2 separate regions of the Homo sapiens genome follow, and region 1 is linked to region 2. The links come from fine-mapping of genetic effects on gene expression. A gene starts in region 2. The other region holds a variant in brackets. All regions are shown on one strand. Distances are between the middles of the regions. Region 1 has its middle 14 kb from the start of RTP4. Region 2 holds the start of LINC02041 (long intergenic non-protein coding RNA 2041).

Region 1 (5,383 bases), 65 kb before region 2:
CTGACTACCTCTTCGGTCTCACTTTCCCCCTGTCTGCTTGTTTTGGCCTCTGCCTTTCATGGTAGAGGATTTCTTCCGATATCAAAGTATCCTTGGCTCTCTGTCCAAGACCAAGTGTGAGACACTAAAAAGCTCCCAGAACACTCACTGTGCAGCCAGCGTAGAGAGAAACCCATCTAGATTGGGGCCATGTGATGGAAGGCTATGGGCGGGGCGGGGGGGGATGTCCCCAAGGGAAAAAGCAAAAGGAAACAAGAGGTTACCTGGTGCATTTGAATGTTTAAAGAGGAGTTTACATTTCTAACAGAGTTTGAGAGTGAGTTAAATGGAAACATGGAAAAGTAAGCAGAGAAAAAAAAAAATGAAAACCAAGGCAACTATTAACGTCAGGGATAAAACAAGAGCTTGTACTAGAAAATAAATGCAATTAGAGTACTCTACACTGCTTAGCTATAAATAATATTCAAATAGTCATTAAGTATTATGACTGAATATTGGTTTAACAAAAAATGTGATTTAAAAGAATTTGAAGGTAAGAGAAGCGTGCCTGATTAGAGCCTGAGGGTGAAAGACAATTAAATGCTTATCTTGGTGGAGGAAATCAGTGATTAATATCAAAAAGTGAAAAATCAAGAAACAGAAACAAGGAGCTGAATACTAGAAGAAAAAGCTAAAAGAAAGGAAGATGATTGCTTCTGGGGAGAGGAAATGGAAGCTGGGAGGGGCCAGAAAGGGCTGATTTTTGCCATAAGCATTATAGAATGACTCTACTTTTCTTAAGCTATGCCCACATATGACTTTGATAAAAATTAAAATAAAACATCACTTTAAGAAACTAATGGCTTAATAGATTTCCAAGATCTCTTCCTGTCACATTCTCCCTTTCTGTTGTTGTTGTTCTTAATAAAAAAACAAAACAACAAAAAACAAAGATAGGGTCTTGTGATGTTGTCCAGGCTGGCCTCAAACTCCTGGGCTCAAGCAATCTTCCCACCTCAGCTCCTGGAACATCTGGGAGTACAGGTGCAGCCCCCACTCCTGGCTACATTCTCCCTGTTTATTTTCTTTATTCTGATATGCCTCTCTCCCCTTTTTCTTTTCTTTTTATTTTTTTGAGACGGAGTCTCACTCTGTCGTCCAGGCTGGAGTGCAGTGGCACAATCTTGGCTTACTGCAACCTCCGCCTCGCTGGTTCAAGCTTTTCTCCTGCCTCAGCCTCCCAAGTAGCTGGGACTACTGGCATGAGCCACCATACCTGGCTAATTTTTTTGTATTTTTAGTAGAGATGGGGTTTCACCATGTTGGTCAGGCTGGTCTCAAACTCCTTTTTCTTTTTATATTACCTAGTCTCCTCTTTTCTTCTTTACTCTGACTCCTCTTCCAACCACAATTTAAATATAATCACGGCCAGGCACAGTGAGAAACACCAGTAATTCCAGTACTTTGGGAGGCTGAAGAGGGCAGATGGCTTGAGTTCAGGAGTTTGAGATCAATCTGGGCAACAGAGTGAAACCCTGTCTCTACTAAACATACAAAAATTAGCTGAGCGTGGTGGCATGTGCCTATAATCCCAGCTAGTCAGGAGGCTGAGGCAGTAGAATGATTTGAGCCCAGAGGCAGAGGTTGTAATAAGCTGAGATTGTGCCATTGCACTCCAGACTGGGCGAAACCCTGTCTCAATAAATAAATAAATAAATAAATAAATAAATATAATCACAATTATAGAAATGCAGACGGTACAGATGTTTTTACTTTGCAAAGGTTAAGGCAGCCCTAGACTAACATTATTTATTAAAGACCCAAGTTCATTAGCTGGAGGTAGATACCCAGGCAAGGGCAGTGGGAGGGCTGTGGTCTAGGCAATGAAGGGGACATTCACTGTATAGAATTTTAAATTCATAATAAAACGCATAAAAGTTGTTTATTTTTAAATTACAATTATATCCCACCAATTCTGAACAATTTTTAAATTACCATTATATCCCACCAATTCTGAACAATGTCAGTGATGAATTACTTCCCCCAAATAACATTTTGTTGATCTAAATTATAAATAATTGCTGTGATCACTGTTAAGTTTTAATAATACATATATAAGTATCGCTCCAACCCGTGGATAAATCCCCAGGCTCAAGATTTGATTACTTCAAGAAATTCCAAGAGTGGCCAAGAGTGAGAGGACAACTCCTTCCCTAGCCCTAGCCGGGTATCCATCTCTCTTGACTCTTTTTTCTTGCTGGGGATGTGATCTTTGAGAGAATTATGTCCCAGAGGCTCAAGACTTATAAACAAGTGTGGAATCTGTTTGGAGCTGGCTTCAGCTTTCTTCCTTCTCAGAGACACAAATGCCCACAACGTTTTGGGGAAACTTTTCTTTAAACTGAAGCAGACGGTCCCTAAGGTCTCTGTTGTGTACGGGAGGGAGGTGTTTAAAAACACCCTCTCAGTGTGTCACATAGATACATCATGGATTGGCTGACTTCATTTCATATTTTCAGGATATTCACATCCAAA[C/G]TTTTGGGGATTTTGTCTCTGTGGCACCCTGTGTAACCACTCAAAGCCCAATAAATATTATGTGATTTATCAGACATTTGGGCTTAATCTTCAGCACCCCCTCCTCCGAGCCCCCCATCCAACTGCATAGTACAGGAGGGGTGAGGGCCCAGGCTGTGGTTGGCAGCCTGGGAAGCATCACTCCCTCCCCATACTGGGGAATTAATTTGGCTCCTAAAATAATGGATGGGGTCATCACTAGAAGGAAGAAAGGTACCAAGAGAAATTTATCAGCACCTGACCAAGCCATGAGTATTAGCAGTCAGGCCTGATAGCCAACTTGGCATCAGAAACAGAAAAATGTTTATTTCATAAACACTGTACACACTGAGCTTATTCTCACGCACACAGACATCTGACCTAGGAAGGCTCAGCAAAAGTTGCTGATAACAAAATCAGTCATCCCTTGAAATGGAAAAGGCTTTTTCCATGTGTTGATCATTAATTGTTGCCAAAGGCCAAAAGGGGCTTTCAGGAATGCTAAATGTAATCTCTGGCCTTTCCTGAACCTCCTTTCATGTTCTCTGCCCCATCTACACACCACATTTTCGCCCTCAGTGAATTCAGACACTTTCAGTTTAGAGGATAATGCCCTCTGAACAACCTCAGGCCAAAAGGGCAGAGACAGAGAAGCCTCTGGAGGTTCGGAAGGACAGATTCATCAGACGGCAGAGCCGGAAGCGATTTTACACCCCTTCTGCAGGAGTGAGAGGAGTAGCTGTTTGACCCCCGCTGCCTCAGCTGAGGCCAAAAGGCACGGCTGATTTCCACTTAAGGATGTCAAAGAGGTGAGCACTCAGGGGTGATGCCTTAGGCTCTGGGTTGAACTAAAAGCTGGGTATGTAGAACCAGGAATGTTTCAGGTTTGTAATGGGAAGTAGAGAGTGGTTAGGAGGAGGGAGAGGCTGGGGAATGGGAATAAGTGGGGAAAAACAATGTATTCTGTCTCCTGAGAACTTCTAAAGAATCTCAGAGTTGCTGAAGGCCTGCAGTGTCCAAATGTGACTTGACCACCTTTTCTGGGGGGCCATGGCAGGAAGCAGTATCGGCAGTCGCTAATTCTCAGCTCCAGAGAGTTAAGAGGGCCTTTCCCTGGAGACCCTGGGATGGTGGAGAAGACGGGGCCCAGGTGGCTTAGTGGCTCAGACATCTCAGAGTGGGCTCTTAGAGACCCTCTAATCCTAATGCATCTTTTAAAAGATAAGAAAACCAAATCCTTGGAGTCAGAAGTGAGTTTCCGGTTAGAGTATAATCTTCAAAAAGGTAAAAGTATGCCTCATACAAATAGTGAACATGTTTCAAAGATTTTATTGAACTCATTAGTTAGCGGGGAAACAATAAGATTGAGAACCACCCCGAAGAACATTTGAGAAGCTAGGTCTATACAAGCAATTTAATAGCTTGGTGTGTAATAAGCTATATAAAGACTGGTTTACATTTAATAGGATCATAAACTGTACACTTTGGGGCTATTAGTTCCACTGGGCAGAGATTATTTATATGTCTACTGAACTAAATTTATAAGTGAGGCTTTCCTTTACAGTGAAGTAAAATAATCCAGTAAATAGAAAGTTAGGTTCAGCACTGAAAGATTACCCAATAATCTCTTTGGCCTGTATGTAAATTTCAGATGATTTTTTAAAAATTGTTCATGGTTTCACTGATAACCGATAGCAGATATATAATGATAAAGTCTCATTATGCTCAACCCAATATTTTTGTCCTTGCAACACAATCCAGAAAGACCAAGATGTCCAAGAGTTAAATTTAGGGAAGAGGTGGATCTCCTACTCCCTGTTAGCCCAGCTCACCTACCCTTCCTAAAGTGCTGCTTATGGAAACACTGACCCCATGAGGAAGCCCAAACTTCCCACATTCTCCAAACCCAAGGCAAGGTCTCCATACTTTCCTTCTTCCTTCCAGCATCCCACAGGATCCCTTGGCCACCCTACTGTTACAGATAGTTAGGCATGAGAGGGGCATGAGAGGGCTCTTCCCCCACCCACTAGAAATGTCGGGTGACAGTTTGGCAATTATCGCATTGCCTCTCTAAAAGTGATAAATTGACAGCCAGTGCCAGGGAGAGGCCATCTCCTGAGGATCCGCGCCTGTTAACATCAAAATGTTAATTGAATGCAGGCCCCAAGGAGAAGCCCCTTGGGCACGCATGTTAAGAGATGAAATGGTGAAGTATGACATTCTGGGGGCACATGCCACTGGAAAAAGGGAAAAAAGCCTCATAAACTCATAAACTCTCTAAACGCACTGTGCATGCTCAATTCCCAAGGGTAACGAGGGCACCATGCATGCAGAAAGCACACCCTAAGAGAAGAATCATGGGGAAGAGGCGAGCTTATCAAATCCTAGAACCTTGGTTAAAGGCGGCTTCCTTTTTTTCTCTCTTTAACCTTTAGGCACCCACTTGGATCTCTTCCAAGGGTTCTTTCCTTCCTTTACCCTTCTAAAGTCTTTTTAATAAACTTCCATTCCTGATCTGGAACTTGCCTGGGTATCTTTTCCTGTTTTATGCCCCTTAGTCAAATTATTTCTTTTGAGGAGGCGAGGACTGAAGTTGCTATGGACTGTGACAGATACACTGCTGGTAACTTGGGGTAACTGGGGGTAACTCAGATCTCGTCCACTGCTAACAGTACCACCACCATGCACTCACTCAGTTCTCATATTCAGCTGTCTCTGAGCTCTGTGGCGCCCTGTGACTTCCTTTTTGCCTCTCTGAGTTCTTCCTACAGGTTCTCAGTTGGAACTCTCATTGGAAGTGTTCAAGTGAGGCTAGGTGACACTTTGGCTGAGTACTAAGCAAGAGGACTTA
Region 2 (5,383 bases):
CTTCCCAATTAAGAAAACTTAGAGGAGAATGCCCACACTCAAAGCACCCAGGATTGCCAAGAGAGAACCTTAAATAGAAGAGAAGGTACTGGAGTCCATTTGGTTGCTGGTGTTGAGATGACCAATTAAAAAGTTATCTAACTCTCTGAGACCAGCCTGGCCAACATGATGAAACCCTGTCTCTACTAAAAATACAAAAATTAGCCAGGTGTGGTAGCACACGCCTATAATCCCAACTACTTGGGAGGCTGAGGCAGGAGAATCCACTTGAACCCAGGAGTCAGAGGTTGCAGTGAGCCAAGATCATGCCATTGCACTCCAGCCTAGGCAACAAGAGCAAAACTCCTTCTCAAAAAAAAAAAAAAAAAATTGTCTAACTCTTTGTATGGAAAGTTTGGAATAATCAGGGACTCCTATCAAGACCTTTAGCTTCCACCATGCAAACATCATATAGGATGAATCACCTTCCGGATCTTCCAACCAGGGTCTTTGTTCGGCTTGAACAACTAAAATTAGCAGTTTATTCACGGTCCATAATGGCTGGGGAATTATTTCATACATATGGGACAAAGGAGAGGGATCCAAAGAGGGCCCTCTTCCCTAAGTCTCATTCATGAGATTCTTCTCATTGAAGAGGCACTCTCAAGCATCCAATTTGCTGCAATTATAGCAATCAAAAAAGCATTCAGTCTCCTTCCGCACCTGACAAGCCAGCTCATGCATTCTCACCAACAGTGGTGGGGTGGATGCTATTGCAGCTCCCATCCCCCTGATTCCAGCTACAGCCACTAATACCACCCTTATCCCCACACCCAGAGCTAGAGGTGGTTCACAGTCCAAGGAACTCCGTCATGTTAACATCGATGGTAGACCTGTAGCTGCCCAGATTCACATGGGCTTACTGGTTCTCTAGAAAGAGACTGGTTTGCCTTTAGTATTGGCTTATAAATATCTCTATCCCCATGGCCTGAAAGAGAACTGATGATAGATAAACTTCTCCATTATGTAAGTTTCTAAGGGCTGATAAATAAGCTCCTGCCATGATAACAGGTGCAGGTGTAGCGCCATGGAGAAGCCAGGGCCTGTCTGATTGCTGCATTGTGCCAGCATTCATGTTACTTGAATGGGTGCTTTGTGAGAATACAGTCTCTGCAGATTGCAGGGACCGGCTGCTGCTGGTGAAAGGGTGGGGGTCTGTTGATGAAAGTCCCATTAACAACACACAAATAACTCCCAGCTTCCTCTTCTCAGTTGCCTCTTTGTTCTAGGCCAATGGCTCTCAGGAGAGCTGAAAATGTTATTTAATTATTTCTAACCCCCATACTGCTGCTACTAGGACTCCTTCTGGAATATCCATTCCCAGCAAGGCATCTGTATTCATTCTCATGAGCCACTCCAGGCTTGCCAATGGATGAAAGAAGTCTGCAACCACTGTAAACAATCAGGCTGGTGTTGAGTCACTTATGTGGACCACCACTGTGCCACTCCTTCTGACCACTCCAGCTGCTCCACCTCTGACAGGCTTCCATCTACCTTGGAGGCCAGCTGACCACAGTACTTAGATCATTACTTGATCTCTCAATCCCCTCTGAGAGTCTTTGGGAAACAACATGCGAATGTTTATCATTGTTAAGTCTGGTCACTGAGCCTCATGGAAAATTCTCCCCTCTTTTCTCAATTTTCTCATTTATAAAATGGGAATAATGAGAATACTCAGACCTTCTTCAAGAGGTTATTTTGAGTCCCAAGTGAGATAATACCTGCAGAATACTGAATATTCAATTAAGGAGGTGCTCAGTAAGAGCACTACTATTTCATTACTGTTTCTCTCATGTCAATTATTAGGGTATTTTAAAATATCTTTCTCCAGAATATCTTTCTATCTCCCAATATGACGATAAGTTCTCCTAGAGCAGGGCACTTCTAAGTTTTCTGATGCGTCCACACAATTTATCAGGCAGCTGGAACATGGAATGAACACTTGCATGGCAGCCAGGAGCCTCAAGCTGGAGTCCCAGCACCACCTGTGATTACCTCATTCCTCTGTCTGGCTGTCTTTCATTAGGTCTTCTATTATCTCCTCTGTGCCCTCACTCTCCCTTCCCTTCTTAAATCCCCATCCTTCTACCTTGGCCTCACCTACTGAAATCTCACTCCACCTTCCAGTTCAAACCAAATTCCCCACCTTCTGGGAATCCCTTCCTCAGTAGCTGCAGACTACACTGGCCTGTCTTTTCCCAGACTTCTCATTCCTTCATGTTAGCACCACAATGCTTAGCAACTAGTGGCTTTTTCAATAAGAAAGATGTAGTCTTATTTATCTCTTTGCACAACTCCCTTCTCTATTGTGTTTTCCACATTTACATACCACTTTGGGGCAGAAATTGGCCCAGTGGCCAAATCTGGCCCACTTTCTTTTTGTATGGTCTAAAGCTAAGAATGTTTTTGTATTTTAAATAGTCAAAAAAAGATCAAAAGAAGAAAAATGTTTCATGAAGTGTAAAAATTACCTAAAATTTAAATTTTGGCATCTACAAATAAAGTTTTATTGGAACGTAGCCACACTCATTTGTGAAGCAGGTTCACTGTGCACTGGTTACCAACTTGTCTGAGTCTGGTAAGGCAGAAGATCCTTAAACATAACAAATTACATGAAACAAATTTATTATTTACAGATAAACAGCAAGGGATAACAGAAGTGTAGGATTGATTGTGAGCTTCTCCCCCCAAACTCAGAAAAACTGCCAGGTAAATGAGGTCTCATCTGCATGTGCCCCACTTGCATTGCTACTGAGGGACCCTGAAAAGCAGACAACCCTGGGTGTTACACCCTCCCCAGGGTATGAAAGGACACACTAGGCAAATGTGTTGAAGAACATCCCGTTTCCAGGTGGAAACTGGAACTGAGCCAGCCTGTTCCAGCCAGTCTCTCCTTGTCTCAGGATGTTGCATTCTCAGCATATTTTACAGTTATTCCAGGGAACAACAGTGAGAAGGGGAGAGAGCTGGGTTGGTTCAAGGCCACCTGGAGAACTGTCCTGCACCATGTGTCGTATATTGTTTATGGCTGCTTTGACACTACAACAGCAGTGTTGAGTAGTTGCAGTAGGGACTGTTTAACCCACAAAGCCTACATTGCTTACATCTGGACCTTTGCAGGAAAAGTTTGCTGACCTGTACTTTAATATATAAAAACCCATTCACATTTGCACATTCATTTGGTGGTCACCACAGGCCTATGGTAACATCTCCGTTTTCAGAAGCTCAGAAAAGTAAGCTGCTTGCTCAAGAATGGACGGCTTCAAGGTGGCAGAGCTGGAAGTTTCTAACTCACTCACCTCATACTCAGACCTGCACTGTTTTTCAAGACAGTCAATATTTCAGGTAACTCTTCTTTCTTGTAATCCATTTCCTATCACATGCCTCACTTAGCATCTCCAATGAGCTCCCTCAAGAAATGTGAGGTTGCATCAGTGGCTCCCTAGTCTCTCTGAAAAGTGATGTAATTGTTATCAAATTAAAGCCCATCAGTAACTGGTAAACTGCTCTGCTCTTAGCTGGCTGGGCCCACAAGTGCTTTATCTAACCAACCATAACTTCTTCCTTGGCTGACGATAAGGTTTAATTAGGAGGAGGTGACATGTTGCTGGTGACCACTGATTTATAATGAACGGCAGCGAGTTTTTTGGAGGGACAGGTAGACATGCTGGCCCCCATCCAAGCCTGCCTGCCTGAACATCTCCTAATCTCTTGCCACCCTCCCTCTTTGCCCGAGCTCATGTTGTGGGTGTTCACTGGTGTCCTTAGTCTCTGCCTTGATGGCCCTTGGTCTTCAGGCATACTCTTTCCTTGGGACATCTTTTCCTAGAGCTTGGTGATTTAGGGGAAATTATTTTCTTACACTGAGCTTAGTTTCCTCATCTGTTGAATGAGAATGATGCTTCTAGCTTTCAGCACAGTTGAAACACAGCACACAGATCACACAGAGATGATCATGTGTGTCAGTTTATGTAAAGTGTACCTAGCACAGCTCCTGGCACATCAGCAGGACTCAGTAAGTGATATTACAGAATTTTCTATGATACTACTGTATCTTTATTCTGAGTCTCAGCAAGAGTGGGCACTAAGCCTTATCTTAGGAGGTCGTTTCTTCTTTCAGGAGCTTTATGATTGGGCATGATCCTTTCTCCATCCTTTCCATTCAGTGCTCAAGTTCTCTGACACTTCCTCATAGCTCACTTGTCAGGAAAGCCAAGAATGTCTGTTGATGTGACTCCTGCCCAGGTAGGAAGTGGTGGTTCTGAACTAGAGCTGAGGTCCCTTGATAGGCTGCATGGAATGCCCTTTGTGGCCACTGGGGCCACTAACCAGGCCTTTCTCCCTCCCACAAATCAGGGTTCCCAGACTTTCACTGGGAGGGCAGTCTGCTGGAGAATTCTATCTAGCTTGTGAGGCTGATGTTTTTCTTCCATTCAGGCCATCTACTGATTGGATGAGGCCCACCAGCATTCTGAAAGGTAATCTGCTTTACTCAAAATTGATCAATTTAAGTGTTAGTCTCATCCAACAACACCCTCTAAGGTGACACATAAAATTAATTAACATTATGCGTTAGCATGCAGAAGTACTCTCCATGGTCTCTCCCTGACAATTCTTATTTTGTTTGTCTTTCTAAACAAATGTATTTAAGAGGTAAAACAACTGGGGAGCCATATGATGTTTCTTTCTCTGTTCAAGTTGGTCAAATAATACTAACATAAATATTTCCTCATGGAGAGATTAACTAACTCAATTGTATAAAGCATTTTCAGTCTACTCTCTCATTGCTTTGTCATGTAAGGCCAATGATCAACTGATCTGATGCATTCATTTTTCAGACAAGGAATCTGAGACCTGGCTGGGAGAAGAGGACTTGCCTAAAGTTATCCCACACAGCAAATTAGTTGGAAAACCAGGATAGTTGAGTAAATATCCTGGAGCCCAGCCAAGTAATGAAGCCAGAATTCAGAAAGCTGTTTTGGCTAGATCTTGGATTTTTACAATAAAGGGTCTGTAAGGGATATTTGTGAAAAATGTTGACACTTGACGGCTGTCCTGATTCATTCAGCTACCTAGGTTATCTCTGCCTCTCTTTGACTTGTGTTTTGTCTTTTAAGATGGCAGTCTTGCTCTTTTGCCTGGGCTGGTCTTGAACTCCTGGGCTCAAGCAGTTTTCCTGCTTTAGCCTCCTGAGTAGCTGGGGCTACAGGAGGACATCACTGTGCCCAGCTCTCTCCGTATCTTTGACTAGGTTATTTTACAACCCCATACGATAGAAATGAAGTTATAGAAAACTGATAGGAATACAAATAATTATTATCCATGGAAATGCAAATTGGATCTA

What was found. PIP is the estimated chance that this variant, and not a neighbour inherited with it, causes the effect.
Region 1: its variant is the best candidate, but not a certain one, in a credible set for the expression of LINC02041 in nasal epithelium (TOPMed, PIP 0.52).

The regions. Positions count from the first base shown.
Region 1 is chr3:187,379,799-187,385,181 of GRCh38, forward strand. No RefSeq gene overlaps it. Among named protein-coding and RNA genes, the nearest start is that of RTP4, 14 kb to the left of the region's middle. The variant C/G (reference allele first, on the strand shown) is at 2,515.
Region 2 is chr3:187,444,374-187,449,756 of GRCh38, forward strand. LINC02041 (long intergenic non-protein coding RNA 2041) reads left to right here and starts at 2,673. Exons shown (of 4, transcript NR_146716.2): 1 at 2,673-2,748; 2 at 3,235-3,384; 3 at 4,477-4,517; 4 at 4,878-5,383.